Regions from separate parts of the Homo sapiens genome. Here region 2 is linked to region 1. Evidence: fine-mapped expression QTL. Tissue or cell type: lung. Region 1 holds a variant in brackets; the other region holds the start of a gene. All regions are shown on one strand. Distances are from middle to middle. Region 1 overlaps SS18L1 (SS18L1 subunit of BAF chromatin remodeling complex). Region 2 holds the start of PSMA7 (proteasome 20S subunit alpha 7).

Evidence for each region. PIP is the estimated chance that this variant, and not a neighbour inherited with it, causes the effect.
Region 2: it holds the start of PSMA7, and the variant in region 1 is fine-mapped to the expression of PSMA7 in lung (TOPMed, PIP above 0.99).

Annotation. Positions count from the first base shown.
Region 1 is chr20:62,157,443-62,172,748 of GRCh38, forward strand. SS18L1 (SS18L1 subunit of BAF chromatin remodeling complex) reads left to right here. Exons shown (of 11, transcript NM_198935.3): 2 at 1,230-1,306; 3 at 2,435-2,519; 4 at 3,994-4,138; 5 at 5,310-5,489; 6 at 6,016-6,180; 7 at 6,703-6,804; 8 at 7,980-8,072; 9 at 15,240-15,306. Among named protein-coding and RNA genes, the nearest start is that of MTG2, 18 kb to the right of the region's middle. RefSeq lists enhancers at 2,594-3,793, 3,476-4,088, 4,089-4,701. The variant G/T (reference allele first, on the strand shown) is at 6,586.
Region 2 is chr20:62,136,731-62,152,036 of GRCh38, forward strand. It overlaps PSMA7 (proteasome 20S subunit alpha 7), which reads right to left and starts at 6,664. Exons shown (of 7, transcript NM_002792.4): 1 at 6,478-6,664; 2 at 4,088-4,214; 3 at 3,051-3,175; 4 at 2,345-2,467; 5 at 1,441-1,560; 6 at 634-696; 7 at 3-219. The coding sequence starts at 6,573. The coding sequence ends at 127. It overlaps SS18L1 (SS18L1 subunit of BAF chromatin remodeling complex), which reads left to right and starts at 7,039. Exons shown (of 11, transcript NM_198935.3): 1 at 7,039-7,159. The coding sequence starts at 7,091. RefSeq lists silencers at 5,866-6,505, 6,546-7,255, 7,376-7,435, 7,466-7,515 and enhancers at 12,763-13,057, 12,987-13,724.

The DNA.
Region 1 (15,306 bases):
GGCTGAGCCCCTGCATCTGACAGGTTCCTGGCAGTGCCCATCTTGAGCGCAGACCGTGCTTGGCGGAGTGTATGCCTGGCCGTCCCTGGACCAGAAGCCTCCATTTTGCCAGTTCTAGGAGCACGTGGCGCCTGCAGAGAGACCCCTGGCCCAGCTCTGGGAGGCCCACATCTGGCTGTTCACCTGAGTCACTTGAAACTGGTTTAATCTGGGTTTAGGGTCATGACCTTGTCTGTGCACACACACTTTATGTGTAAGACACGGAAGGTTCAAGACGGGACCGGCCTTCCCTGTGTGGCCTGTGGGCCTATCGTGCCGTTCTCCTGCATTTCAGCGCAGCACCCCTGGGGGTGAGGGCTGCGGGGTGCCAGCCCCAGGTCTAGGTCATGCCCGGTTCCGCAGTCTCACGCATCTTTTCTGCCCCCACGCCGGCCTGTGTGTGTGTGTGGTTTCTTCTACCGGTGGTGCCGTCCCTGACCCCCCCAGACCCTTTCCTTCCCTCCCTCACCGCGGTTGGTGCAGCCCCTGCAGGAAGTCTCGATGCCCTTACCACCTGGGAGTGCCCTGGACCCCTGCTGATCCTTGGGAGGGGGCAGTTACCTGTGCCCCACCCTGTGTGGTTGCAATTCGAGGCTATCCCCTCCAGCTAGGGGCACCAGGGCCTCTTGTGGGGTGCCCACAGGGTCCTGACATCCTTGCCATCGGCTTGGCTGACCCTTGCTGCACAGATGCTCTGCCGTCAAGGGCCCTGGAAGCTGGAGGGTCCTTCGGGCTGGGGGCTGCTGGGGGCACGGGGCCTCTGTGTTTTCATTTGTGGGCTTAGATGGCCCTGCCGCTTACGGATGAAGTCCCCAGCACAGGGAGGTGTGAATGTTCGGTCTGTGGTGGCTGAGGCAATGCACGTAACGACAGTTTCGTATACAGAACAGGCGTAGCATCCGAGATCTGGAAATTTGAAGTGCTCCAAAATCCAGAACCTTTTGAGCACCAACATGAGGCTCAAAGGAAATGCTCATTGGAGCATTTTGGATTTCGGGTTTTCGGATTAGGGATGCCAAACCGGTGGGTCTAATACAGATATCCCCAAATCTGGAAAAATCTGAAATCTGACACGTTTCACGTAAGGGACGCTCAACCTATATGAAAACTAGATGTGTAGCGATGGCTGTTCATCCCGAGGGTCAGCGACAGCCCCGCGTCGGCAGCGCCCGCTCACGCTCTCTCCGCAGATGCTGGACGAGAACCACCACCTGATCCAGTGCATCCTGGAGTACCAGAGCAAGGGCAAGACGGCCGAGTGCACGCAGTGAGTGCCCGCCATACACCGGAACACTTGGAGGGTGTCATGCAGAGTCTAAGCACAGAGGCCAGATACGTCCCAAGAGTCCCCCAGCACAGAGATCAGATAAGTCCCAGGAGTCCCCAGCACGGAGGCCAGATATGTCCCAGGAGTCCCCTGCACAGAGGCCAGATATGTCCCAGGAGTCCCCCAGCACGGAGGTCAGATATGTCCCGAGAGTCCCCCAGCACGGAGGCCAGATATGTCCCGAGAGTCCCCCAGCACGGAGGCCAGATATGTCCCGAGAGTCCCCCAGCACGGAGGCCAGATATGTCCCGAGAGTCCCTGGCACAGCTGCGAAGCATTGCTGCCAGAACTGGGGTAGTTCTGAGGGAGGCGGAAAGTGGGAGGCAGGAGCAGTGTGGGGAGGCCTGGGCCAGCCTCTCTGGGCAGCTCTGTGGCCAACAGCCAGCGCACCAGGAGACAGCACCTACTCCAGGTGGGACCTCCTGTGACCCTGTGAACCTAGGGCCTGATGCGTAGGAGGGGTGCGTGGCCAGTCTGCCACCCTCCAAGCGGCTGTCCAAGTGGCCGTCAGACTGACCTGGAGGTGGGAAGTGCGTGAATGGCCTCAGACACCCCTGGGTGTGGGTGGGGTGAAGGGACTGGGTCCCCACTGGTGCGAGGTATACGAGGGGCCTTCCCTGGCAGAACTGTGCTTCCCCATTTCTTTCCAGGGCTTTCTCAGGGTCGTTGGCTCTATGGAGTCCGCCCACTGCCTGGCTCAGCTGGACGAGGGCTCTGTCCCTCTGTCACCTTCGGGCCCCTGCCTCCTCGTGGCCTCCCCCCATCTCTATCCTCTGAACAGACCAATGCCAGCTTCCGCTTAGCTGTTACCTTAGAGTCTTTCCAGAGTTTTTGTCATGGGTTGGGAGCCTGCTCAGGGTTTGGGGTAGAGGCTGCCCTCCCGTCCCCACCGAGACCCCAGCACCCTGCCACCTGCCTGTGTCCAGCTGGGTGTCATCTGGGGTCCATGTCCTCATGGGGTTTGGCTGGATGTCAGGCTGTCTTGTTCACACTTTACTTCTGCCTTGGATCCACGTGGGGACTCTGTGGTCCCGTCGTCCTGCCTCATGCGTGCCCCCTCTCCTGCAGGTACCAGCAGATCCTGCACCGGAACCTGGTATACCTGGCCACGATCGCAGACTCCAACCAGAACATGCAGTCCCTGCTTCCTGCCGTGAGTACCCACGGGGGGTTGGCCTCCTTTACCCAGCAAGGACTCCGACACTGCCTAAGATCGGAATTGTGGGCATGTCATCTCAGGTAGCAAAGATGACTCAGAGAAACCAAAAATACCACTAGAGCCACCAGAAATGGGAGTGTGGGCGGTGGTGACCAACCCTTCCTGACAGACTGGGAGTAATGACAGCGTCTGAGGTGGCCAGGTCAGAACTGTGGCTCAGCCTCGTTATGTATTGAAGGGAGGGAAGCCCCGGAGAAGCCACTCCAGGAGCAGCCGCAGCTCTCGGGTCGGGGGTGGGGAGAGGTGGGATGGGGAGAGGTGGGGTGGGGAGAGGTGGGGTGGGGTGGGGAGAGGTGGAGAGAGGTGGGGTGGGGAGAGGTGGAGAGAGGTGGGATGGGGAGAGGTGGGGAGAGGTGGGGTGGGGAGAGGTGGGATGGGGAGAGGTGGGATGGGGGCCCTGCGTCTCCCTGGAGCCTCTCCGGGTGCTTTGAGCCACTGTGAACCGTGCACATGCGCTGCTGTGGGTGAGAACGGAACTTAAAAGAGAACATGCCCAGCACAGTAAATTCTCCCAGTGTTAGTTCAAATATTTTATTTTGTTTGATTTTTTAAAATGCATTTTTCCAAGATTAAATTGTCACAGTGAAGACGAGGTCGTGCTGCTGCAGCCTCTGTCCTGCTGACGGGGTTCCGGGACAGACATGTCGCCGGGAATGACGTATCTCCTAGTGACCCTTAGTCCTCGGCAAGTGATGACATAAATGCCAGGATGTGTCTTGCGAGTAAAAATGTTAAACCCACCTCCATTGACCTGTCAAATTGCACTTCTTCACCCTGCAGACACCCACAGGTCCTGGTGGAAATTTCCTTTTCTTGGCCAGGTGTAGACAGCATGTGTGTGCAGACCTCCAGAGCTGCTGGTTGACCTTGATCTGGGAGAGTGCTGAGGGCCACTTCACACTCACTCCCTTCTGTGCGGTGTGATCCGAGGCGGGTGTGGGGTGGGGGTAGTCGGGGAAGGGGCACATGCAGCAGGAGCACGGGAAACAGGAGAGGGATCCCACCTCTGCCGAAGCTCTTGGCACGGAGGGGTCGTGGTTGGGGAGCACAGAGGCGCTGGTCACCTGCGCCCGAGGGGGACGGGGTGCGTTCAGCCTGGTGGGCCGGGAAAGGGGTTCCCTGCTGTCCCAGGAGGAGGTCCAGCTTTTCACACCCAGGCACGTGTGGATGAACTTGATACTCAGTAGGGTTGTGAACGCTCACCCAGATGCTCACTCTGCCATCTCCATCTGGGCCTGGTGCTCTGCGGTCACCTGGCTGTGACGATGGCTGCTGATTACGAACATTGACCAGGTGGCCATGATGTGTGGCGGCAAATCTCGGGTGCCCTCTCATCCCTGGCCTGGCTTGTGGAGGTCGCTCTCCGTAAATTAACCGTTTTTCCCTGAAAACTTCCTGTTGCCTGCAGCCGCCCACGCAGAACATGAACCTGGGCCCTGGAGCCCTGACTCAGAGCGGCTCCAGCCAGGGCCTGCACTCTCAGGGCAGCCTGAGTGACGCCATCAGCACGGGCCTGCCACCCTCCTCCCTCCTGCAGGGCCAGATTGGCAACGGTGAGTGCGGCGGGGGAGGAGGACGTTCCTGGCTACGAGGCCACCAAGGCAGCCCTTGGGCAGCCGGCTGCCATGGTGGGGCACCCCACCCCTCACAGGGCTGGGCATGGGACCCACTCCTCCTGGGGTAGCCACAGGTCGGCTGCCATCGCCCAGGCTCAGGGCCGCAGCGAGCGTGCCGTGCGGCTGGGCTGAGCCCCTGCTCCAGTTGTCCACTCTCTCTGACACTGTCACGTTCCATCAAATTCAAATGCAAGTTGCGGGGTTCCAGGTGGATTGTGTAATAGGAATGGAATGCTCCTGTCTTTGGATTGAGAAGCATGGATAACGTTTGGAGACCATTAACAGTAATATAACAGGCCGGGTGTGGTGGCTCAGATCTCTAATCCCAACCCTTTGTGAGGCCTAAACCAGCAGACTACTTGAGGCCAGGAGTTTGAGACCAGCCTGGGCAATATGGCAAAGCCCCATCTTTACAAAAAATAAAAATATTAGCCGGGTGTGATGGTGCACACTTGTAGTCCAAACTGTTAAATACTCGGGAGACTGAGGAGAGAGGGTCACTTGAGCTTGGGAGGGTGAGGCTGAAGTGAGCCTTGTTCATGCCACTGCCCTGCAGCCTGGGTGACAGAGCCAGACCCTGTCTCAGAAAATAATAACAAAATAACAACAAATAAACGATTCATCCTGTGCTTTGCTAGCATGTACGCTGCTTTGTTTTCTTTTCTTTTTTTTTTGAGACAGAGTCTCGCTCTAGTCGGCCAGGCTGGAGTGCAATGGGCATGATCTTGGCCCACTGCAACCTCCGCCTCCCGGGTTAAAGCAGTTCTCCGGCCTCAGCCTCCCAAGTAGCTGGGATTATAGGCACGTGCCACCACACCTGGCTAATTTTTTTGTATTTTTAGTAGAGACGGGGTTTCACCATGTTGTCCAGGCTGGTTTCGAACTCTTGACTTCAGGTGATCCACCCACCTCGGCCTCCCAAAGTGCTGGGATTACAGGCATGAGCCACTGCTCCCGGCCACTTATTTATTAGTCACTTAATCATTAATAGTGCTGTTGATAGCAACTCTTCCCAAAGTCACTTGAAGGGAAATTGGGGTGTCTTCACCTTCAGAAGTGGTGACCTGGCTCCCCAGTGCCTGACACCACTCCCTGCTCCCCATGCCAGGGCCGAGCCACGTGTCCATGCAGCAGACGGCGCCTAACACGCTGCCCACCACCTCCATGAGCATCTCTGGGCCCGGCTACAGCCACGCGGGACCCGCCTCGCAGGGCGTCCCCATGCAGGGGCAAGGCACCATCGGCAACTACGTGTCTCGGACCAACATCAACATGCAGTCCAACCCAGGTACCTACTCTGCCTCTGCAACCCCGGGGGGCCTGGGCCTGCCTCCAAGACCCTTGACACATGCACGTTGGACATGTGGTCCCGGGGAAGCTGCCCTCCTGCTGGGTGCTGGAGGGGAGGGGCCCGTGAATCGGGGCTGGCCGCTGCCTCTGAGAGCTTCCGGAGGGATGGGCGCCAGTGGGTGCACGATCAACTCCTCCTGTCCCCCAGCTTTGCGAGGGGCTGGGGTGTTTCCCATGGAGTCTCAGGGAATGCCCCAGGGAGTGGGGGCCACTGGCCCTGGGTCTGGACAGACAGCACTGGGCTCTCAGAGGTGGGGTAGAGTCGGTGCAAGCAGCGGGTCTGAGCTTGCAGGGCGTCAGTGCAGGCCACGTAGGGGAGGCGTGCCTTGCGGTGGAGGACGCTGTCCTCGTGGGGAGCACAGGAAAATAACGAGGAACCCGCCCGGGCGCAGGAGGTAGTTGGGTGTGGGAGGGAGGGCGGGAGGCTTCCCGGGGTGATGTGGGGCCTCTGTCCTGTCGTTCAGTCTCCATGATGCAGCAGCAGGCGGCCACGTCGCACTACAGCTCGGCGCAGGGCGGCAGCCAGCACTACCAGGGCCAGTCGTCCATCGCCATGATGGGGCAGGGCAGCCAGGGGAGCAGCATGATGGGGCAGCGGCCCATGGCGCCCTACCGGCCCTCCCAGCAAGGTAACGCCCGGCCGGGCCAGGTCGCGGGCACAGCTGACCGCCGCGGGTCGTGAAGTGCCAGGCTGTGTGTGCTTCTCTTCGGGGAGCCTGGGGGAGTGAGGCGGGGAGCCTGGGGGAGTGAGGCTTGGCGCCTTGGTGTTAACATTGAGTGTGGACCCTGGGGGTGAGGGCCAGGGTGTGGCCCGTGGAGGGTCTGCTGTCCCCGAGGAGTCAGTGTTGGGGGCAGGGGCGGCAGTTGTCATTAAGAGTGTCACAGGCCGGGCTCATGCCTGTAGTCCGAGCACTTTGGGAGGCCGAGGTGGGCGGATCACCTGAGGCCAGGTGCTCAAGACCAGCCTGGCCAACATGGTGAAACTCTGTACTAAAAATACAAAACATAAGTTGGATACGATGACAGCGTGGGGT[G/T]TTCTCCTCGGGTGGGTGAGGCCATTCAGCAAGGCCTTGGCTTCCCCAGTGAGCGAGCAGGTCCTCTGAGGGAGGAGGGCGCGGCCCGCACTGGCGCTGAATGTGGTTCCCCCGCAGGCTCTTCCCAGCAGTACCTGGGCCAGGAGGAGTACTATGGCGAGCAGTACAGCCACAGCCAGGGCGCCGCGGAGCCCATGGGCCAGCAGTACTACCCCGACGGTGAGCACTGGCGGCGGCCTGACCCCGCCCAGGAACGCAGAGCAGCTGCAGGGGCAAGGAGGGCAAGGAGGGCAAGGAGGGTGTGGCCACTGCAGTGTGTCCTCAGTCATTCCAGCTCAGGCCTGGGCTACAGGCAGAGTGGCCAGACGCCCTGCAGGAGCAAGGTAGGGGATGGGGTGAGCTGGGCTGGCAGTGGTGCCTGGCCTCTGCAGAGAGAAGCTGTGGCACACACCGCTGCACTGGCCTCCACGCGGCCTTGCCTCTACTTCCTGAAAGGCTGTGGGAGTTGGAGGCGGATAATTGTAGCTCCTAGCTGTAGATAGGTGGAAATGTTCAAGAAGGCGCCTCCCAGCTTCACAGAGAATGCCCTGAAGGTGACGGCTCCACCTGCAGCACCTCTCCTCCTGCACCTTCTCATCTCTGCAGAGTATTTTACCGTCGTCACCTTTCAGTCTTTGCATAGTCCCAGGGCTTGTGGAAGGGATACTGAAAGTGGTCTTGGCTGAAAACAGCGGTTCACACCTGTCATTCCGGCACTTTGGGAGGCTGAGGCAGGAGGATCGCTTCAGCCCAGGAGGTTGAAGCTGCATTGAGCCATGATCGCACCACCACACTCCAGCCTTGGTGACAGAGCAGGATCCTGTCTCTAAATAAAGTAAAAATAACAATAAAATAAAGTGGTCTTAAAGGCTGGATTGATCCCTGGGAGGCATCCAGGCAGGGAGCTGGCCTCAGCCAGCAAGGGGCAGGTGCACAGACAGGTGGGCAGGTGGCAGCAGGGCAAGCCACCCTGGCCACGTGATGGTCACATGCAGCGAAGGCCTCGGTAAGGGTTGGACACCCCTGCCTGCGTCCTCCCAGGAGCTAGCGGTGGCGGGGAGAAGGCAGTCGGGTCACTAGCATGGCTGTGTGGCAGGCACTGAAAGCGCTGATCCTCTGCATAAATCCCCAGGTAGCTTCACAGTCGCCCCGAGAAGGAGGCATTGATGTCTGCATTTCAGTGGGGAGGCCGAGGCTCAGGAGGTTGGGGCATGGTTTTGGGGAACACGGGTCCTGCCGGCTCTTGTTGCCTCCCTGGCCAGACAACATCTCCCCAGCCTGGGTCTCAGTTGCCTCCTCCGGGACCTGTGCAGTGCACAGCCTCCGCTGACTGTCGCCGTCTCCGTTTCGCACAGGCCATGGCGATTACGCCTACCAGCAGTCATCCTACACGGAGCAGAGCTACGACCGGTCCTTCGAGGAGTCCACGCAGCACTACTATGAGGGGGGTAAGGAGCACGGCTGCGTGCTGGGCTCGAGCGTAAGCGCCACACGCAGCAGAGTTAAGACGCTGCACCCTTAGGAGCACGCGGTGCCTGCCTTCAGTGAGTCCCTTAAATCACAGCACAGCGCGTGGGAGGAGAGACAGTGTGTTCTGGAAGCTGGAAATTCAGGCTGTGTCGGGAGCCCCGCTTGCCTTATGGGTGTGTTCGTGAGACAGGAAAGGATTCAGCCGGCCATGCTGGGGTTGGGGGCACAGACTTGGTTATTGGGTCCAGCCAGGGAGCGTGGGGCCTGCGACAGGAAGGATTCAGCCGGCCATGCTGGGGTTGGGGACACAGACTCTGTTATTGGGTCTGGCCAGGGATCGTGGGGCCTGCGAGCCACTCTCAGAGCTTCCTCAGCTGGAGGCCAGCAGTGGCTGCGCTGGGTGTGGCCTCGCGTTTCTTCAGACACCTGCAGGCCAGGAAACGCACATCTGTGGCTGGGGGCTTGCCGCCCTTCATGGCGGTCCTGGGCAGTGCTGCGCTGGGGGCTGCGTGTCGGGTGGACTTGCCCCTTTCTGTGGTGTCTGTGCCCCCACCCTGGCTGCCCTGAAACCCCAACAGAACATCCCAGAATGTGGAGTTGGGAAGAGGTACACACAGCCCGTTCCAGTCCCACCCCGGGATAAAGATGGCCCCCAGAGAAGAGCTGATGATCGCCTGCGGGATTGCGCAACCTCGTCCGGGAGGGAAGGCGGGCCTGCAGTCCCTGGGGAGAGGGGCCTCGTGTCTGCTGACGCTGACCGGCAGGCAGCAGTGGCTGAGGCCTTCCCACTGCAGGGCTGCAATTTATCAAGAGGTAACAGTGTTGGTGAGGCTTCACCAGGTACACAAAGCAGGCAGGCACTAAACGGCTACAGATTTCCTTGTTTGGGTTACTTCTTAAAGAATTGGATGTGTAAAGGTTTTGCTTCTGAGCTTACACATCTCAGCCTGCTGTGAAGAAATAAAGCACGCAAGTGTAGGCACATATAGAAACATCACGGTGTGCGCTACGAATGCCTGCAACGTTGAAATGTCAGTTACACCTTTGTAAACCTGGGGGAAACAAAAAGTACATGAATACATAATGAAAGTTTAAAAGAAGAAAGAGCCTAGGTGTTGTGGCTCACGCCTATAATCCCAGCACTTTAGGAAGCTGAGGTGGGTGGATCACCTGAGGTCAGGAGTTTGAGACCAGCCTGGCCAACACGGTGAAACCCCGTCTCTACTAAAAATACAAAAATTAGTTGGACGTGGTGGCATGTGCCTGTAATCTGAGCTACTCAAGAGGCTGAGGCAGGAGAATTGCTTGAACCCGGGAGGTGTAGGTTGCAGTGAGCTGAGATCATGCCATTGCACTCCAGCCTGGGCAACAAGAGTGAAACTTTGTCTCAAAAAAAATAAAAAGAAATAAAAAAAAGAAATGGCCAGGCATGGTGGCTTACGCCTGTAATCCCAGCACTTTGGGAGGCCAGTGGAGGAGGATTGCTTGAGCTCAGGAGTTTGTTTGTTTTTTTTTTTTTTTTTTTTTGAGACGGAGTCTCACTCTGTCGCCGAGGCTGGAGTGCAGTGGTATGATCTTGGCTCACTGCCACCTCCGCCTCCCAGGTTCAAGCAATTCTCCTGCCTCAGCCTCTTGAGTAGCTCGGATTACAGGCCCCGCCACCACACCCAGCTAATTTTTGTATTTTCAGTAGAGATGGGGTTTCATCATGTTGGTCAGTCTGGTCTCGAACCCCTGACCTCATGATCCACCTGCCTCAGCCTCCCAAAGTGCTGGGATTACAGGCGTGAGCCACCGCGCCCGGCCGAGCTCAGGAGTTTGAGGCCAGCATGGGCAACATGGCAAAACCCTTTCTCTCCCGAAAAAAAAAAAAAAAATGCCGGGCGTGGTGGCGGGTACCTGTAATCCCAGCTACTCAGGAGGCTGAGGTGGGAGAATCGCTTGAACCCAGAGGCAGAGGTTGCAGTGAGTTGAGATTGCACTACAGCACTCCAGCCTGGGTGACCGAGCCAGACCCTGTCTCAAAACAAAAGCCACCCTGTGGCCAGCACCCAGAGGCTATCTTCTGGCATATTGGCTGCAGTGGTGCCTCCGTAAGCCCTGGGAGTCAGCAGGATCTCTGCCATCATGGGCCTGGCCCTGTCCCTTCCAGCTGGAGCACAGGGTTCAGCCTTGTCCATGGCGAGGTGTCCACATGCGTCTGCCCAAGGCTGCCACACTTTGTCCCAAAAACAAACGCAGGATGTGCTGCTCAGCCTTTTAGTGTCTGATGTAGCTACTTTTTTTTTTTTTTTAAAGAGACAGGGTCTTGCCCTATCACCTAGGCTGGAGTGCAGTGGCCTGATCGTGGCACACTGCAGCCTGGAAATCCCAGGCTCAAGTGATCCTCCTGCTTCAGCCTCTCGAATTGCTGGGACTAAAGGCATGCACCACCAGGCCTGGCTTTTTTTTTTTTTTTTTTTTTTTTAATTTTTGTAGAGATAAGGTCTTGCCATGTTGCCCAGGCTGGTTTTGAACTCCTGGGCTCAAGTGCCACCTCAGCCTCCTACAGTGCAGGGGCTCCAGGTGTGCGCCATTGTGCCTGGCTGATAGGTACTTCCGTAGCTTGTTGTGGGTTAGGTACTCTTGCCTTCCATCATTGATGAGAAATTTGCTGAAAAGCTTAGTAACCTCTTAAGGCCAGTAAGACAGATGGTGTGGTTTCCTCCTTGATTTAGAAGCATTTTATTCCATCTGTTTGTTAGACTCTGACATGAGGAGTGCACATACATGGTGACACTTTACCCTACAGCAGGTGGTACTGTGAAGTCTTGCAGGGGTGAGAGGCCTGGAGATGCTTTGCTTTGAAGAGATTGGCGGATGTGTCATAGCCACCTTCAAACACAACTGTGGCCCATGGTGCAGTGGAGAGGCTGGGGGGACGTTAGGAGGAATGGGTCAAAGGCACCATAAAGAACTTTCCAGGCCGGGTGCAGTGGCTCCCACCTGTGATCCCAGCATCAGGCCAGGTGCAGTGGCTCCCACCTGTGATCCCAGCATTGTGGGGGCCAGGGCAGAGGATCACGTGAGCCTGAGAGGTCGAGACCAGCCTAGGCAACATAGTAAGACCCCCTCTCTACTAAAAAACATTAGCCAGGTGTGGTGGCATGCGCCTGTTGTCCCAGCTACTTGGGAGGCTGAGGCAGGAGCATAGCTTGAGCCCGGGAGGTCGAAGCTGTACTTAACTATGATCACACCACTGCGCTCCAGCCTTGGCAACAGAGCAAGACCCTGTCTCAAAAATAAAAAGAATTTTCCAACTTTTGAGTCATCCCACAGCAGGATGAGTGGGACAGGCTGGTGCTGGAATTGTTCCTGGTGACGGCATCAGTCAGGAGCCTGCAGAATCTGATAAAACGAGAGGGTGTTCATGCGCAGGGCACCAGTAATAGGAGGGGACCAGAGTGGGGCTGACCAAGCCAGGAGGGGACAGCGGGGGCCACGGGGTCACTTGTGCTGGGCAGGAGCATCGGGATGTGGTGCTCGGTGGGGGAGGGGCCAGGAGAGGGTGCGAGTCCCGCGTTCGCGTCACAGTGAGGTTTGCAGTGACGCATACTGGACAGAGCGCAGCCCCTCGTGACCTGGCATCTGGGCGCCATTGCTGCTAGGAGAGACCGCCCATGAGCTGCCAAAGCCAAGTATGGAGCTGGGCGCATGGGATGTGCCTCTGTGAAAATGCAGGCAAGAGGAGACTGTGCCCTTGCACACACGCACACTCACACCGTCAGCCAATGGACAAACACCAAAACAACCAACACAAATGCTTCCGGGTAGGAGATGGGGTTAGGGCTCAGGCAGTCCAGAGCAGGGGTGGAAGCGGCCACCTTCCCAGGACCTCTTGAAGGTATGAGTCCGTCTGTATGTACCTTTGAATCATGTAGATGTATTGGCAGCTTCAGAAGTTAAATTAAACATCATTGGGGCCGGGCAGAGTGGCTCACGCCTGTAATCTCAGCACTCTGGGAGGCTGAGGCGGGTGGATCACTTGAGATCAGTAGTTTGAGACTAGCCTGGCCACCATGGTGAAACCCCATCTCGACCAAAAATACAAAAACTAGCTGGGCTTGGTGGCGCATGTCTGTAAAGCCAGCTGCTTGTGAGGCTGAGGTATGAGAATCACTTGAACCCAGGAGGCAGAGGTAGCAGTGAGCCAAGATCACGCAACTGCACTCCAGCCTGGGGCGGCAAAGCGAGACTCCATCTCCAAAAAAAAAAAAGGAACATCATTGGCTGTCACAGAAACTGAAAGGACCTCACTTTATGGCTGTCCACACCGTCCACACCTCCTGGAGTCCCGAGCGCGGCTGGCGTGTCGTGTGCATTTCTCAGGCCCTCGCCAGGTGGTGACCAGCGTGTCCCAGGAGTGGACGACAGGGTGGTGTGGCCGGGGCCTGTGGGACTCATCTTCCCTGGGCAGTGCTGGGGCCGCCTTGGCTGCGTCCTCGTGTGGATCACTGTGTTTTTATGTGACACGGCTTTGAGCGTCGTTCACATGTTCCTCGTGGCTCATTGTGTCCACATCTTGCTCCTTCTGAGGAAGCAGAGGGTGTGCCGTGGCCTCTTGTTTCACACACAGATGCGCCATGCTGCCCGGCACCTTCTCACGGGCACCCCGCAGAATGCCAGAGGATTCTTAGAGAAAGAAAAGAGCTGGGCACGGTGGCTCACGCCTGTAATCTCAGCACTTTGGGAGGCCGGGGCAGGCGGATCACGAGGTCAGGAGATCGAGACCATCGTGGCTAACACGGTGAAACCCCGTCTCTACTAAAAATAGAAAAAAATTAGCTGGGCGTGGTGGCGGGCGCCTGTTGTCCCAGCTACTCAGGAGGCCGAGGCAGGAGAATGGCGTGAACCCCGGAGGCAGAGCTTGCAGTGAGCCGAGATTGTGCCACTGCACTCCAGCCTGGGTGACAGAGCGAGACTCCATCTCGAAAAGAAAAGAAAGAACCCTGGAGTACTTGCTGGTTGTGGAGGAAGGCCCCACATCTGCCCGCCCCGTTGCTGTCCTGTTGAGAGCACGGCCTGGGCTCCCCCGAGCCCTGCAGATTTCATGCAACACATCTGAAAACGGCAAAGGCCTTTTCCACAGATGTCGTGCCCCCTTTCCCTGCAGTTATCTCAGCAGCCCCCTTTCTTTGGGGATAGGGCGGCTGCTGCCAGTTCCCACTAGATCGCCTGAGCACCCACTGGGGTGTGAGAGCCAGGCCTGGTCCCTGTGTGCTGGGGCTGGGTGTTCTGAGCTGGCACTCTCACAGTTGTTGCATACCTGCTGGGTGCCAGGGCAAAGCTGGCCCGTTTCCTACAAACTGGCTCCTTTATTTTTTTTTTTTGTTTATGTTTTTTTGAGATGGAGTCTCACTCTATCGCCCAGGCTGGAGTGCAGTGATGCGATCTCGGCTCACTGCAACCTCCTCCTCCTGGGTTCACACCATTCTCCTGCCTCAGCCTCCCGAGTAGCTGGGACTACAGGCTCCCGCCACCATGCCGGGCTAAATTTTTTGTATTTTTAGTAGAGACGGGGTTTCACCATGTTAGCCAGGATGATCTCGATCTCCTGACCTTGTGATCCACCCGCCTCGGCCTCCCAAAGTGCTGGGATTACAGGCGTGAGCCACCGCACCCGGCCACAAACTGGCTCCTTTATTATGTAAAGAATAAAGTGGGCTATAAAACATGAGAATATGCAGGCTGACCCCCAAAAGCCTGACACCCTTGAAAACCCACTCCCCCATGTCTCAGATGGCTTTCATGGGGGCAGGAGAAAGGATAGTGACCTTAAGTCTTCTCCCGTGACGGTGACAGCTCGTTTGCCAGCTGTTGCTGGAACCGGCCCTGGATTTAGAGGAAGGCGTGGAAGTTCAAGACTCAAGATACTTCCTGGATAGAGAATAACTGGAAAGGCTCAAGTAAGTTTTTCCGAAGCTCTCGCCTTAGGAGGAGTTCAGCCTGGAATAAGAGCGTGTGTTAGTTTTGTCATCCCACCTAACTACAGATTGAATTACCCTGATAGGTTTTTAAGCCATTCCAGTGTGCATTATCTCAATAAAGCTGTTATTTAAAAAAAATACTAGATTGCAGTTTTAAAATACTTAAATTTTACAGCTTCTAAAAAAGGAAAGTTATTTCCAACCAGAAAAGTAAAGTAGAAAATGGATTCTTTGCGCAGAGCATGGTGGCTTACGCCTGTAATCCCAGCACTTTGGAAGGCAGGGGCAGCAGGATTGCTTGAGGCCAAGAGTTCGAGACCAGCCTGGGCAACATAGAGAGACCCTGTCTCTACAAAAGATTTAAAATTACCTGGGCATGGTCGGGCACCGTGGCTCACGCCTGTAATCCTAGCACTTTAGGAGGCCAAGGTGAACGGATCACAAGGTCAGGAGATCGAGACCATCCTGGCTAACATGGTGAAACTTCATCTCTACTAAAAATACAAAAAATTAGCCTGGCGTTGTGGCGGGCACCTGTAGTCCCAGCTACTCGGGAGGCTGAGGCAGGAGAATGGCGTGAACCCGGGTGGGGCGGAGCTTGCACTGAGCTGAGATCTCGCCACTGCACTCCAGCCTGGGCAACAGAGCGAAACTCCATCTCAAAAAAAAAAAAAAATTATCTGGGCACGCTGGCACACACTGTAGTCCTAGCTACTTGGGAGGCTGAAGTGAGAGGAACACTTGAGCCAGGGAGATGGAGGCTGCAGTGTGCCCTCATTGCACCACTGCACTCCAGCCTGGGTCCCAGAGCGAGGCCCTGTCTCTGAAAAAAAAAAAAAAAATTATATCTGCAAAGACCCTATGTCCAAATAAGGTTCCATTCACAGGTACTTGGAGTTAGGACATCAGCATCTCTCTGGGGAGCACATTTGACCCGCGACGCTGGCGTTCATCTCTGTCTTAGTTGTCATATTAACCATTTCGTTTCTTAGCTTTCCATTTGTATTTCTATAAGATAAAGGTGTAGTATAGTATTTGAATGGTTGTGAAAAAATAAACATGCCGAAGCAATGGATTTGGTTTTGGGATTCCAAAGTTACCGTGTCGTGAGTGGGCCACAGAATGAGCCCCCTTAGCCCAGGTGGGGAAAGTCATTTCTGTGTCTCCTCCTCCCTCCAGGAAACTCCCAGTACAGCCAGCAGCAGGCCGGGTACCAGCAGGGTGCCGCGCAGCAGCAGACGTACTC
Region 2 (15,306 bases), 21 kb before region 1:
GGTTAAAAATACGGAAGTTTATTGTAGGACACTCAGTGTGAATAAATGGAATGGAAAGGCCTACACATCGAGACTCATCCATGATTGATATGAATTTAAAAATTACAAGCAAAGACATTTTATTCATCATGATGCTTTCTTTTGTTTCTTCTTTTCGTTTTCTTCTTTTTCTTTTTCAATTTCAGCAACATACTTCTCAATTTCTTCAGGATTTAAAATCTATAGAAAAAAACTTCATGGTTACCTAAGCCACACAAGGTGCCAAGGAACCAGCGCCCTCTTCTGGGGAGGGCGGCCAGGCTTTGGCACTGCTGCTCATACAGCCTCTTTGGAGAGGAACCTCAAGAAAAACAAGAGGATGCTGGCCTGACCTAGACAAGTATTAAGCAGCAGTAGCAGCAGCAGCAGATCTGACTGGCAGCCGCTCAGCATGCCCAGAGAACACGCGTGGACCATCTAATCAGAGGAAGATGGGAATCTTCTCTTTGACGTATGGGGAGCCTCAGAAAGACATTTTCCTAATGTTAAAACCACAGAATGGCCCTATGATGTTTCCTTCGGAACTGGTACTGCTCAGCCCTGATCATGGGAGAAAACTGACAGGTAAAGAAAGCAGACAAACTTGGTGATTACCTTGAGGGATTGATCTCGCCTCATGACAGCAAGTTCAATGTTTTTGCCACCTGACTGAACCACCTTGAAGGGACAGAAGACAGGAGCATTAACCACCTTTCCCTATTCAAGACAAAAGCAGCTCTCAGGAGTACCTTAAATAGGTGTGTACCCAAACCCAGCACCGTCCCAGGAACAGAGGTCCCAGCCCCCAAAACCTGTGTCTTTGTCCTAAACTCATGGCCATTTGTGAAGTCTGTTTGGGATGCCTGCACACCCCTCCGCCTCCCAGCACTGGGACTCCTCTCTCCTGCACAGTAGCGCTGCTCCAGGCCCTCCTCTTGACACAGTGGTTACAACCAGGAATCCTGATGCCTACGCTCCCGCCTGGCCTTCCAGCTAGTCCCTCTCTGGTTTTACCTGCTAGCACTTCAAGGTCTTGACAAAGCCCAACCATATCTCCAGTTCTCTAATCCCCTGACTTTAGCAACAGTTCAAGCCTCTGGAAGGCCTAGTGATGGCTCGAGAACAGATTCCACAGCTGGACAGCTGGGTTCACATCCTGCCTCTGGTTCTCATGCTGTGTGTCCCTGCACAACCCTCAGCTGCCCCGGCTGGATAAAGACACTAATGATCACATCTTGCATGGCTATTTCAAGGAACACAGCAGTTAGGATACACCATAGACCAGAGCAGTGCCTGGAACACAGCAGTCATTAAGCATTACTGCTGGATCCTTGCCACCTTCCTTCCTGCTCATCTACCTACCACTCACCACCAAAACGTGGTATCTTCACCACCTTGCCTGGATTCCAAATGCAAACTTACTTCCAGGAGTGCCTTGATCACCAGCTTAATGGTCAGATCATCTGTTTCAATGGCTTCGTCAGTATAGTTCTTCTCCAGGAACTCGCGCACTGACTTGGCACCCCGACCTATGGCATTGGCCTAAAACAGACACGTATGTTCTCACGTGGCATAGGGCATGACAACCCAGGGCCAGCCCTGGAACACAGCTGCCCTACATGGGCCGCCCAGCCAGTGGCAGTGGCAGGAGGCAAGCTGGAGTGCTGGACAGCAGCTGTGGACACAGGCCCTGCCTCGTGGCTTCCTTTTGCAAAGAGCTCTTTAGAGTTGATGCTGATTCTTACCGAGAATGGGGTTATACGATTGTATGTTTTACTGCGCTATCAAGAGGCAATGGGAGATTTTTTTTTTTTTTTTTTTTTGAGGTAGAGTTTTGCTCTTGTTGCCCAGCCTGGAGTGCAGTGGTGTGATCTCGGCTCACTGCAACCTATGCCTCTCGGGTTCAAGCGATTTTCCTGCCTCAGCCTCCTGAGTAGCTGGGATTACAGGCATGTGCCACCATGCCCAGCAAATTTTTTTTGTATTTTTAGTGGAGACAGGGTTCTGCCATGTTGGCCAGGCTGGTCTCGAACACCTGACCTCAGGTGATCCAACTGCCTCGGCCTCCCAAAGTGCTGGGATTACAGGCGTGAGTCACCACGCCCACCCAAGAATTTTAATTTATGTGGACTACGCTTACACCTTGCTGCCCTTTGATTTTCTTCCAAACAGCAATGTTTAATCATTTTCTTGCTCTCATAGGACTAGGTTAACTTAAACTGACTCATTCACTGATACAGGGCCTACAGCAGGAAGCCCAGGACCTCCCACCCCTCAAAGCCTTTTTCTGGCAAGACTGTCCAAAGCCCCTTTGTCACGAACTCACCTTCCAGGCATGGTATGTGCCCGAGGGGTCAGTCTGATAGAGCCTAGGAGTGCCATCAAAGTCGAAACCCACGATGAGGGCAGAGATGCCAAACGGCCTGCGCCCATTGCTCTGCGTATAACGCTAGCAAGAAAAGAAACAGGTCAGTGCCATCCAATTAAGAAACTGCATGTGAGGAAAGAACCGTACTTAGTGAAGATACGAACATTTTAAACCATGCCTGAGCCCCTTCTCAGGTTATCAGCAGTTCAAATGATACATTAGCCAATAGCTTTCAACATCCTTTTCTGCATTTTCACTCCTAGAAAAACTCACCTAGGACCAGAATTGTGAACTCAGGTTACTGGAAATTACTTTGACAGGTAGACACACATTCTGCTTACATACTAATGGCGTGTCCTCATAGGGTGGCTTCCAGCCCCCTTCAACTGCTTTGTGACTGGTCACTCAGGATGGCAAGACAAAAGCTATCATTTCCCTCCAGACACAGGAATTTGGAATATCCCATGCCAGGAACTGAGAACAGAACAATGTTACTGAAATTGGTGAGCTAGGTCAAGTTACACTTGTGCAAGTCAAGATTAGGATCACGCCCCAGAATAAATCAGTTTTCTGATTCACCTGAAGTGACATGGCAGGACCCTCCATGGCGGAGCCGTGACTGCCCTGCTGCCAGAGGTGAGCATGCAAGCGGGCAGGCACCCACCTGCTTCAGACTGGCGATGTAGCGGGTGATGTACTCCACAGTGACCGGGTCCTCCACAGTCAGCCGGTGGCTCTGGCACTCCACCCGGGCCCTGTTGATGACTATCCTTGCATCGGCGGTGAGGCCTGCAAGGAAAGCAGAGAGGCTTCTGCTAGAGAGACAGCACAAACTACAGGGTGGGGACAGACACGATGACCCAGCATTTAACCTTCCACAGACCCCCCAAACCGGCAGCAAGGCTATTCTAACTGACTGGCAGCGGAACCTATCAGCCCCTGGGAACTTCCAGGAAATTGGGTACAGATGCTTCTTGATGTGCAGTGGGGTGGTATCCCGCTAAACTCATCGTAAGTCAAAAATACCTGGCTGAAAATGCATTTACTACCCCATAAACCCATTGTAAATAAAAAATTGTAGGCTGCCGTGCAGAATCTGGATTTTTAAAAACACAGATCAACAGGGACTGTCTGCATATGAAGAATTGTGTACTTCAGACCATACTTAAATACAGTACCTGAGTCCTCTTGGGAATCTTAGAAATTGAGTTAATCCCTAATTTCATTACATGAATTGAGATCTTCCTAGATTGCATCTGCTGAGAGGAGAAATGAGCAAGACCAAAACAGCGCTGAGAACATGGCGAGGCATGGCCTGCATCCACCAGTGTGGTCCTTTTTACTGCTGGGGATGGCAGGACGTGGTTCTGTCCTCTCCATGCCACAGATGCAGTTAGCTCTAGAAAGTCCAGCCTTTCTCTAGATTGTAACTGATTGATACAGAAAAATAACAGTGGAGGTCAAATTGCGCAGCAGCCAGAAGTGTTTTCATCCATTTAGCCATTTGTTTCACCTGCTATGGCAGAGAGAGGCCACCAAAGAAACTAGCCAACTTAAAAGTCCAAATCCAATTCTTTTAAATGATTTTCATTTACTCAGTTTATATGGCTCACAATAGCCCACACACCCAAGTTAATCTCCAAAGCCCTATTCTTCGCTGAGACTCTAGAGAGTAAGACAGCGCTCCCCACCGACTCATACCTGCAAAGGCCATGCAGACGTTGTCATCCAAAGCACAGATCTTCCGCACTGTTCTTTCATCCTGCAGTTTGGCCACTGACTTCTTCTCCACACCAAGAACAACAATGTCTCTTCCTCGAACACCAACCTTTAATTAAGATCCACAAACCACGTAAGAAAGTGATATGAGTGCTGGGTGCAGTGGCTCATGCCTGTTAATTCCAGCACTTTGGGAGGCTGAGGTGGGTGGATGACTTAAATTCAAGAGTTCAAGACCAGCCGGACAACATGGGAAAACCCTGTCTCTACAAAAAGTACAAAAATTAGCCAGGTGTGGTGGCTGAAGCCTGTAGTCCCAGCTACTGTGGGGGCTGGTGGGAGGATCGCTAGAGCCTGGAAGGTGGAGGCTGCAGTGAGCCATGACGGCTGGGAGACAGAGACAGCAAGACCCTGTCCCCTCACCCCACCCTATCCTCCCAAAAAAGTGATACATGGTTCTACTGCCAGGCAGCGAGCAGTAGGAGCAGATCTGAACCTGGGTCCTGGGGGGTACGTACTCCGGGTAGCAGCTCCCACTGGAAGGTGCGTTCACCCACACCCCTTTCTCCTCTACTTGTCTGTCACTGTGGCTGGCACCACATCCTGCAAACCCAGGGGTATTCATCTACTGCTGGTAGAGCTAGCCCAGGCGTGCTCACCTAGGTGCCCAACCTGGGCCTTTCAAATACTGAGATGTAGTTTTAGTTACAACATAGCTAGTAAGTAACCATTATATAATCGGCATGTGTTTCCTTTCAACCCAATGAATCAGTCCCATGCAAAGCCTGGAAGCCTGAGACTTTCACTCAAGTCTGGTGTTCTGAAGGCAGTGTTTCTGTAGTTGTGAAATTATATTGAGCCACAATGCACTGTTTCCTGCACTGTGACATACTCATGTGACAGCCATGAGAAGGGGCCTGATTTGCCGTCAGTGGACAAGGTGTCAAGTGTTATCCCAAACTGTTTATGGCTGATGCTGGAGAAGGATATGGCTGTTATTAAAAGCATGAACAATCACTGACAGTCAACCCGAGTCAAGCCAGAAACAAAGGGAACCATCATTGGGATAAACAGCGCCTCCTGGTTTAGAGCAGGGCTTCTCCAGCTCAGCACTGTGAGCACCTGGGCAGGGGGATCTCCCTGTGCCTGCCGCCCTGAGCACGGGTGGGATATTGAGCAGCGTCCCTGGCCTCTACCCTCCAAATGCCAAGAGCACCTCTGCAAGGTCTTACCACTGGAAAAGTCTCCACACACTGCCAGTGGCTCCGTGTGGGCCCAAAACCATCCCTGGCTGAGAAGTATTGATCTGAAGTGTTTGGGTTTTCTGGGAGCTTTCTCAGGTACTGACTCACTTGACCTTCGACTGACTCGAGGCCCAGAGAAGCTATATGGGTTCGTTAAAGCCAGCGGCGGCCAGCTGGCGGGGGTGGCAGTATTGGGGTGGGTACAGGGGTCAGCCGACTCCTAGTCCTCTTTAAGCTGAGTTAGATCACCTGATGAATACTGGGCCTTCATTTCAAAACAAAGATTCAGAAAATGAAAACAAATCAAAATTTACAGAACCGTGTGTGCTGCTTTCTCTGCCTGCTCAAACCTCTGAATACCAGATGATAAAAGAATAACGATCTCACAGACTGACCAATTAAACTGACACGTCTTGATGGTACGAATTTAAGTTTCAAACAATGTCACTAAGGTCAATGTACACGAGCCCTCGTCAAAACGAAACGGCCGCGTCCAAACCAGTCCTGACCCGGGCGGCTGCAGCCCGGCCCCGGGAAGGCTCCTCCCGGCAGAGTGCGGAGACCTGGGAGGCGCCCGCCACCGGCCAGGCCAGCGAGCCGCTTTGTTCTCGAAGCCCACCTGGGCCTAGAGAATAAGTGTTGCCCCGGAGCGGGTGGGGGTCCCCATAAGGGGGGTTTGAGTAGTTCGCTCCCCAGCCACCCGGCTGCGTGAACAGCCCCCCAGCGAGCGCACGGCCTACCCCCCGCGCTCCGCGGCCCAGAGCGGCCCTCGCCCGGCCTCTGCTCGCCGGGGCGGCGGCGCGACCCACGCGCCCGGCCGGGGCCAGGGGTGCTCAAGATGGCGTCGTCACGGCCCCCGTGCCCGGGGCCCCACGCGAGGCCGGGCCCCAAGCGAGGCGCTGAGTGGGGAGAACGAGCGCTCGCGGCTCACGCCAAACGCCGCCTCTGCAGGCACTCGTGGAGACCGGCAGCGGGGCCCGCGCTCAGCTACAGCCCTGACCGCCCGCGCCGCTGCCCCGCGCACGCCCGCGGGCGCCCACAGCGCCGCGCCCGGCCCCGGCCCTCTCTGGGCTCCCCAGCCCCACTTCCGCCCGCGTCCCCGGCCCCGCGCAGGCCCCGCCGCCTCACCGCGGTCGAGCCCTTCTTGACGGCCTCCTGCGCGTACTCCACTTGGAAGAGGTGGCCGTCGGGCGAGAAGACGGTGATGGCGCGGTCGTAGCTCATGCCGGCGGGCGGCGGCCGGGCTCCTTCCGCCGCGACTCTCAAAAGCGCACACTCACGGCCCGCGCGCACCCGCGACTCCCGGCGCCACTACGCCCGCGCCCCACCCTCGGCGCCGTGTCCTGCGCTGCCGGCGACGGGCGGCGTCAGGCGGCGACGGGCAGCGTCAGGCGGCGTCGGGCGGACGTGATGGCGCGCGCCGGGGCGGGGTCAGGCCGAACCACCGGTGGCCGGGGGTGGGAGGCGGTGCTCCGGCGAGGGCCGGGCGCTGGGTGCGAGGGGGTCGCCGGGGGCCACCGTTCGGCACTGGGCCGCAGACCGTTCTGCAGGGCGGAGCGGCGGCGCCGCGGGCCCGGAGGCGCGGCGACGGCGACGGGGCGGACGAGCCCACGACGCGGCGCCCCCCGCGCTCCCGCCCCCTTCCCCCCCTCCGCGACTGCGGATAATGAGCGCCTCGGGCCGCCCAGCGCAGCCGGAGTATCCACCTCGATGACCACGGGCTGAGCCCCGCGCCGCCACCATGTCCGTGGCCTTCGCGTCTGCCCGGCCAAGAGGCAAAGGGGAGGTTACGCAGCAAACCATCCAGAAGGTGGGCCGGGCCGGAGCGGCGGCGCTGGGCGGCGGGTCTGCGGGCGGGCGCGCGCGGGGACGGGGCGCGGGCAGCTGGCGGGCGCGGGGCGCGAACAAAGCCGGGGCGCAGCCGGGCGGCCGCGAGCCCCGACGGCGGCCCCGTGCCCTTCCCCGCGTCCCACGCCTGCGCGCCGGCGGGCACCCGGCCGTGTGGGGGGCGGTCCCCGGAGAGCCTGCGCCAACTTTGTTGGGGCGCGCGGGTCCCTCGGGCCGGGGCACTGGGCGGTGGGGGCCGGGCGGACGCTGGAGGCTGCCGGCCCCCGAGCGCGCTGTCCCCCGAGTCCGCGGCGCGCGCTGGGAACTGTCCTGGGCTATGCCGGGCGCACGGGGACCCCTCGGGGCCGGAGCCGCGGCGAGGGCTTGTCGCGCTCCGCAGCCAGCTTCGGTGGCGACGGCGGGCGGTACTCGTTTTCTGCGCTCATTTTGGTTAGTGGTGAGGGGCCCGGGTCGGCCTCCGGGCGCACTTGCGACCGCGGGGACTGTGGCCGGGGCTGCCCCTCTTGCTCCTGGAGCGAGGCGCGAACGATGGAGGCACGGAAGGACGCGTCCCGATCCCCATTTGCGGGGCATCGTTACGCAGCCCGGCCCCGTAGGGAGCGCACCGCCCCCTCCGTATCCTCGCGGCTACGCCGGGTTTCAGCGTGACACCCTCGCCAGCCGCCTCGCCTAACAAACTTGACGGATTTGCTCCACAACCTTTCTTCTAGCTCCGTAAGTTCGGCCTTGTGGTTTTCAAGAGACAGCGTTTATGTGGGTTTGGGACACCGTTATCCAAAGCCCTAAGTTTTGAAATTGAGACTTTGTATTTTCTGCTGTTTTTTCTGTAGAAGACAGATTCGGAAGAAAATCAGCATTAGCCATACCCGTTTCAGTTGTCACAACATCTGTTGGAATGACATTGGTTTTTTTTCCTAAACTCTGACTCCGTCTTCACCCTGGTGGGATTGCAGGGATAAACAGTGGTATTCCTAGGTTCCCAGGAGCCGCTTGTCTCCCTAAGGGGGTTCACCTTGACCTTGACTGAGGCTGTTATTCCTTGATGACGTGCCAGTCTCCTGTGGAAGTTGTCCTAAATCTATCGCCTATTTTGAGACTACCTTTGCTGTTGCTAGTTTTAGAAATTTGATGGTCTTAACAAATGAGAACCTTGGCCAACTCTGAACAGGAGAGATTGAGAATAGCAGAAATACAGATTTACAAGTGTGGCATTTTAATTTACTTAGTAAACACTTATGTGGCGCTTACCGTATCCCAGACACTGTTCTAGGGGTTTTATAAATCTTGATTCATCCAATTCTTCATAGAAGCTACTGGCATCCCGTTTAATAGCTAAAGAGGCTGCGGCCTAGGGAGGCCGTGCCTTGCTGGTAAGTGGACACTGAGGCCTAGGGGGGCTAAATGCCTTGCTGGTAAGTGGCACAGCCAGGTGTCGATCCCATACGGTGGCTCCAGGGTCTGCTCTGTTGGTGCCCCTTGATCTGGGAACATTTGGCCAGGCGGAGGTCAAGCTCTAGGCTCAGAGGCAAATGTTGGAACCCAGAGCATCTCCTGGCACTCTGGTTTTTTGGAGCTTAACAGTCATTGTTCCTGAAGCTACCTTTGGCTGCAACGTTTATCCCATTATTTGCACTTCGCACACAGTTCCATTGAAGCTCCCCAAATTCTCCAGGTAAAAGTGTGTATTGAGGTGCTGCCCCGAACATCAGATCAGAAAGGAAGAAATGCACCTGTGGACCGTGGGTCCCTGGGCAGAAACTCAGCCTGCTGACCATTGGAAATAGGCCTTCAGTTTAGGCTGCTGACTTGGCTTGGTAGGGCCAGCAGTCTGCGTATTGGGCTTGGTGTTTTGACGGTGAATATATGTACCCAGGGATCTTTTACTGGGAGGTGTGAGAAGGCTGAGAAAGGTGTGAGAGGTGTATGTTCTATGCCTCAGACGTGTGCTGTGTCCACAGTGTGTGCTGGTAGTGTCATGCCGAGAGCTTTAAGAGAAGCCAGGGACCCCTCTGAAGCCTGCGTGGTAGTGAAGGAGAAGGAAGTCTACAACTTGTCCTTACAGCATTCTGCGTGGTAGCGAAGGAGAAAGAGGTCTACAACTTGTCCTTACAGCATTCTGCGTGGTAGTGAAGGAGAAGGAGGTCTACAACTTGTCCTTACAGCATTCTGCTTGGTAGTGAAGGAGAAAGAGGTCTACACCTTGTCCTTACAGCATTCTGTGTGGGTGGAGATCTTCCAGGCCAACTTCTACTCAACCTTCAAAGCCTCACTCACGTGTTCCGCGTCTCATGCTCCGTCGGCAGTCATGTGGCCCTTGTAGCACTTGCTTGAGCTCCTGAGTTTGGCATGTGACTGATTATTCTTTGCTGATCCCCAGCCTCTCATAGTGTCTGAGCACAGTTAGTGCTGAGCACGTGCTGGATCATCTGTGACGCTGGTCCCATCAGTGGAAGCGTTTTGAGATAAGCAGATGCGTTCGTGTCCTGTGACTTCCTTGACACATTCCCACAACCCAGGTGGCTTCAAACAACAGAAATCTATTCCCTCACAGTTCTGGAGACCAGAAGTCCCAAGTCCAGGGGTCAGTTACCTGCTCTTCTCCTGGCTTCTGATGACTGCGGGCAGCCCTTGGTGTTCTCTGGCTTGTAGGTGCATCCAGCGTGTCTCTGCTTTGATCATTTTTTTTTTTTTTTTTTTTTGAGATGGAGTTTCGCTCTTGTTGCCCAGGCTAGAGTGCAGTGGCGCGATCTCGGGCTCACAACCTCCGCGCCCCCGCCCACGTTCAAGGTTCAAGCGATTCTCCTGCCTCAGCCTCCTGAGTAGCTGGGATTATAGGCGCGTGCCACCACGCCCGGCTAATTTTGTATTTTTAGTAGAGACGGAGTTTCTCTGTGTTGGCCAGGCTGGTCTTGAACTCCCGACCCCAAGTGATCTGCCCCCTCCCCCCCTTAGCCTCCCAAAGTGCTGGGATTACAGGCATGAGCCACCATGCCTGGCCTCAATTTCCCACTTTTTATAAGGACTCTAGTCACTGGTTTTAGGGCCTACCTTAATCCAGCATGACCCCGTCTTTATTTCATTTTCAAATACCTCATTTCCAGTACCTCCCATGCGCAGGCACCAGGGGTCTGGGTACAGTTTAGCCCACGAGAGTGCGTTTGTGGTGAGGGCTATCCCAGAGAAAGAGAACCATGGGGCAGGGGCAGGGAGTCACAGAGGGTCCCGAGCCTGGCCTGCATGGAGCAGGTATTGGGGGACCTAAAGTGGAAGGGCAGGGGGTGCTGGGCTGATGTGGGGAGGGTAGCTGGTGGTGACCAGGCAGCAGTGTGTGGGTGAGACAGTCAGAACTGCTCTGTGGCAAGCACCACAGAGGACATGACTGTGCTGGGGAACCCTGCGGTGGGGCTGGGCCATGTCCCCACGGTGGCCCTGGGCCTGGCTGGGTGTTCTCTAGCCACCAGCTGGGGACTGTAGTGTTCTGTTGTCCAGTGCGTGCTCCTTACGCTGCTGTTGGGGCTGGGCCTGCAGTGGTCACCTCGGACCATGTGGCCAGGCTTGAAGGGGACCCCTGAGTTGCCTCTTTGCTGCTTGGCATGCAGTAATTGCTCAATAAATGTGTTACTGTTTCTGTTTGTATTGGTTTTCTCATTGGTTTCCTTGGCCGGATAATAGCAGTGGTGTCTGCCTGTCTGCTGGGTGTCTGGATCCCCAGCACCTGTTGCGGGGCAGGGTTGGGGAAAGGCTCTGAGGGAATGGGATGGAGCTGAGAGGAGGTGGGCCCCTGGGGCCGCCTGCTGGGTGGGTTTGGTGTGGGAAGACAAGACCTTCGTGGGGTGGGTTAGTGCCGTGCCCAGGGTCCGAGAGCCAGGGAGTTGTTGAAGCTGGACCAGCCCTACCCCATGTCCTTGGTACCCAGGTGCGGGGGTGGGGCATGGGCAAGGGGCGCACTTCTGGGTGGGGATGGGCTGCGGAGGATGGGGTGCACACCCAGTAGGCAGTGGGCACCCTGTGTGCTCCCTCAGAAGTGGAACTTGCTGTCTGAAGGAACGCAAGCTAATTTGGCTAGGAGTGTTTGTAAGGTTAAAGCTGTCCAGTGACTGAATGGCTTGGGGATGCCGAGCCTCCCTTGCATGTGGCTGATTGACAGCGTTCCTCCTGCGATCAGAGGCTCCCCCCACCCGAGAAGGGGAGCATGGGGGCCTGTCTTTACATCCGCAGGGATAGGGGGGTTGGGTCCCCTCATTCCGGAGCCTGGGCTCAGCCCCGGGGAGGGACCCCGCAGCCACCGGCCTTGCTCGGCCTCCTTGCTGTCTTAGGTCAGGTGAGGGAGGCTCGGCCTCCTTGCTGTCTTAGGTCAGGTGAGGGAGGCTTGGCCTCCTTGCTGTCTTAGGTGAGGGAGGCTTGGCCTCCTTGCTCTCTTCGGTCAGGTGAGGGAGGCTCGGCCTCCTTGCTGTCTTAGGTCAGGTGAGGGAGGCTCGGCCTCCTTGCTGTCTTAGGTCAGGTGAGGGAGGCTTGGCCTCCTTGCTGTCTTAGGTGAGGGAGGCTTGGCCTCCTTGCTCTCTTCGGTCAGGTGAGGGAGGCTCGGCCTCCTTGCTGTCTTCGGTCAGGTGAGGGAGGCTCGGCCTCCTTGCTGTCTTAGGTGAGGGAGGCTCAGCCTCCTTGCTGTCTTCGGTCAGGTGAGGGAGGCTCGGCCTCCTTGCTGTCTTAGGTCAGGTGAGGGAGGCGCTCTGCAAGGCCCTTGAACCCAAGCGCCACGGGGGAGGTGGGCAGGAGAAAGGCATTGTCCTGGAGGGAGCAGCCACAGCCTGGCCTCTGTCCCCCCTCTGCCTGTAAAGCCTGGCCATACACCCTCTTGCTGGATGCTCCTGAAGCTGCTCTCCCAACTCCTACCCAGCCTGGAGGGTGAGGACGCATTTGGATAAAGACACTGTGCCTGCCCACTGCCCTTTACCCGTGACCTTTCCAAGGCTGGTGGGTCTCCAGAGTCCCTGTCTGCCATCCAGTCGCCGGGTGTGGAGTCTGGAGCCAGCAGCCAAAGGCAGCCCAGGTCTTGCCCAGGTGGTGCTCGCTAGCCGGCGGTCCTGCGGGTGCTCTCCTCGAGGCTCCGGCCCTTTGCGCGGTCTGGGCCCTGGGCCAGTGGGTCGGGGCCTGGGCACCTGCCTCTGTGTGCTTGGAGTCAGAAGACAGATTCCCTGGAATCCCCGGGCTGCAGGTGGTGGCAGTGTCACGCCCGTCCCCAGTGGATGCAGGAATAAACAGGCCCTGGGTGCCGAGCAGTTAGCGGGCTGGCGCTGATGGACCGTAAGGCCTGTGGGGCCTGGGAGGCCTGGGAAGAGGGAGTGCAGGTCTTCCCGCCTGGTTCGGGCAGGCACCTCCACCACCTCCCTCCATGTGATCACAAGAGGAGTCCAAAGGGTTGGGAGAAGGTGCCATGGATGATGGTAGGAAGGGGGCTCCTGTGACACTGGTCTGATTCTAATCGGCCACCACAGCTGCTGTGCACAATGGGGACGGAAATGGGCTGTTTATATCCTCCTCAAATGGGAAATAGGTGTGGAATGCAGGCAGGTCCTTGGTGTTACCAGGATGGGGATGGGGGCCATGGAGCTGCAGGAGGGCAGGGTGGGGCAGGCCGGGCCTCCTGGGCTCACATTCTTATCCTGCTGATGGTGATGTGTGCTTCGCCTTTCTGTGCCCCAGTTTCCTTGTCTTTACGAAGAGGACAGGGCTGTGGCCTCCCTCATAGCCTGTATGGGTAAGGCAATGCCCAGCAGCCTTGTAATTGGTCAGCTTTAGCCTTTGATCAGGCACTCAACGAGCAAGGAATGGCCGGAATTTATCCGTGGTATTCGGAAAGGGAGGTGAGGACTCCATTCCAAACTGCAGGAAACCATCGCAAGTCCAGGGTCATGTCAGAAAGAAAAAGCAGTGTCAGCACATGGATGAGATGCATACAGACGTCGCGTGTTGCTAGTACAATAAGCACGTCTCCAGCTTGGAAACTGTCAGGAGCACAGTGATTTTGTTGTGTTGTGCTGTGCTGTGACAGCCCAAAGCGCCATGAGACTGGAAGTGATTGCCAAGGCACATGCAGAGGCGGCTGCTCTTGTGTCTGTTCAGCGTGTCTTCACATGTTCTTAGAGTCTTTGAAATTGCACACACACGTCAAGCATACAGCGGTGGGGCCGTGAGGCAGCAGCCAGCTCCTCTCAAGGAGACTGCACATGTGTAAATTGAGACGCTCTTCTGAAACCTACACACCGACTTCACGGATTCCACAGTTGGGTGAATGTTCAGAGGGGTCCCACTGGCTTCCATCAGTGGAGTCTGTAGTATCGGCTTGCTGACCTCGGGGGCAGGGACGGAGCAGCTCAGGCTGGGCTCAGAGGGAAGGACTGCTGATGGGTCAGCGATGTCTGCCCCGAGAACAGGAGTGGCAGGCGCTAGCGCAGGTGCCATCGCTGGCTTAGCCACCTGCTGATGCTCGACCAGCTCTCCGGTTAGCCAGGCTGGTCCCCCTCACACCTTGATGACTCCTAGGAATTGATTCTGCGTCTGTGTCCACGCCATGCGTGGGGAGTGCATGGCAGCCCTGCATGTAGTGGCAGAAGACGGGGAACAATTTCAATGTCTGTCCAAGCAGACAGAGTACTACGTTGTGTCCATGTTGTGGAATTCTCCGGAGCATAAGAAACATTGAGGTGGATTTTTTTTTTTTTTTTTTTTTTTTTTTTTTTTTTTTTGGAGACAGAGTCTTGCTCTTTCGCCCAGGCTGAGGTGCAGTAACGTGATCACAGCTCGTGCAGCCTTGTCCTCCTGGGCTCAAGGGACAGGTGAGGTCTCTATGTGCTGACAGAGGACAGTCTCCAAGATGTTTGAGAGGAAAGGGAGCTGTGTGGAGCAGCGGGAGCGAAACGTTATCAGGTGTGTGCAGAGTCGGGAGGGGAGTGCACAGGCTCCATGCCAGACGCTTCCAGAATCGGCAGAGCTGGCCTCTGGGGAAGAGGAGCCAGGGGTTCCTCCTGCAAAATTAAAAAGGTTCCAAAAGTCTTTGTAATTAGAAAGGACAACCATGAGGACACTGGAGGTCTTCCTGCCCAGTGTGGGCTGAGCCAGCCCCGGCAGTGAGCCTCAGAGCCCCAGGCCTCCTCTGTCTGGCTTCCAGGGCCCCACACAGGTTGTCATTGGGGAGAGACTGTTCTGCTGAGAGCCCCTCACCCAGGTTTTTGCCTGGTAGCCCCAGCCCTTCCCCTACTCTCTGTGGGCTCTGGGACCCCAGTTCTCCGTCCCTGGTTCTCATCCTCACTCCCTCGCCTACCCAGTTAGGACCCCACGGTGGGGCTTCAGCAGCCCCAGACCCCATCCTTGGTGCCTGGCTGTGCCCTGGGCCCTCCAAGCCAAGCCCCGTGTCCCCCGTCAGTCCCCGCTTGCCAAATCCAGTTTCTCTGCTCACCCACATGGTCCATTGCCATGGCCGTGGCTTCCGTGCCCCTTGGGTTTGTCTCCCTGTGGGTGCTGGGCTTGGCCCTGGGCATCAGCCAGCCTGACCAACAGAGACACGTTGGGGCCACCCCTCAGAGCCTGAGACCACAGGGGTGACCACGCAGAGAGGGAGTGGGAGGCCCAGGTGTCCCAGCTGCCCCAGCCACGAGCCCAGCCAAGCCCAGCAGAAGATCCTCCGAACCAGCCCAGAATCATGAGAACTAAGAAATCATGTTTCAACCACGCGGCTCCGGGAGGTTTGTTGCGCATTGGGTAATGGATGCACCCAGCCGCGTTGGGATCTTGGTCCAGCCAGTCTCTGCAGTGAGCACAGGCTTTGGTTGAGAAAGTCACCCCCACAATGGGCACAGGACTCCTGTCCCCCAGCAGCCCCCGTTCCCCTCTTTTCCCGCTCCCCATAGCTGGCCTCCCCCGTTCCCCTCTTTTCCCGCTCCCCAGAGCTGGCCTTCCCCGTTCCCCTCTTTTCCCGATCCCCAGAGCTGGCCTCCCCCGTTCTCCTCTTTTCCCTCTCCCCAGAGCTGGCCTCCCCCGTTCCCCTCTTTTCCCGGTCCCCAGGGCTGGCCTCCCCCGTTCCCCTCTTTTCCCGCTCCCCAGAGCTGGCCTCCA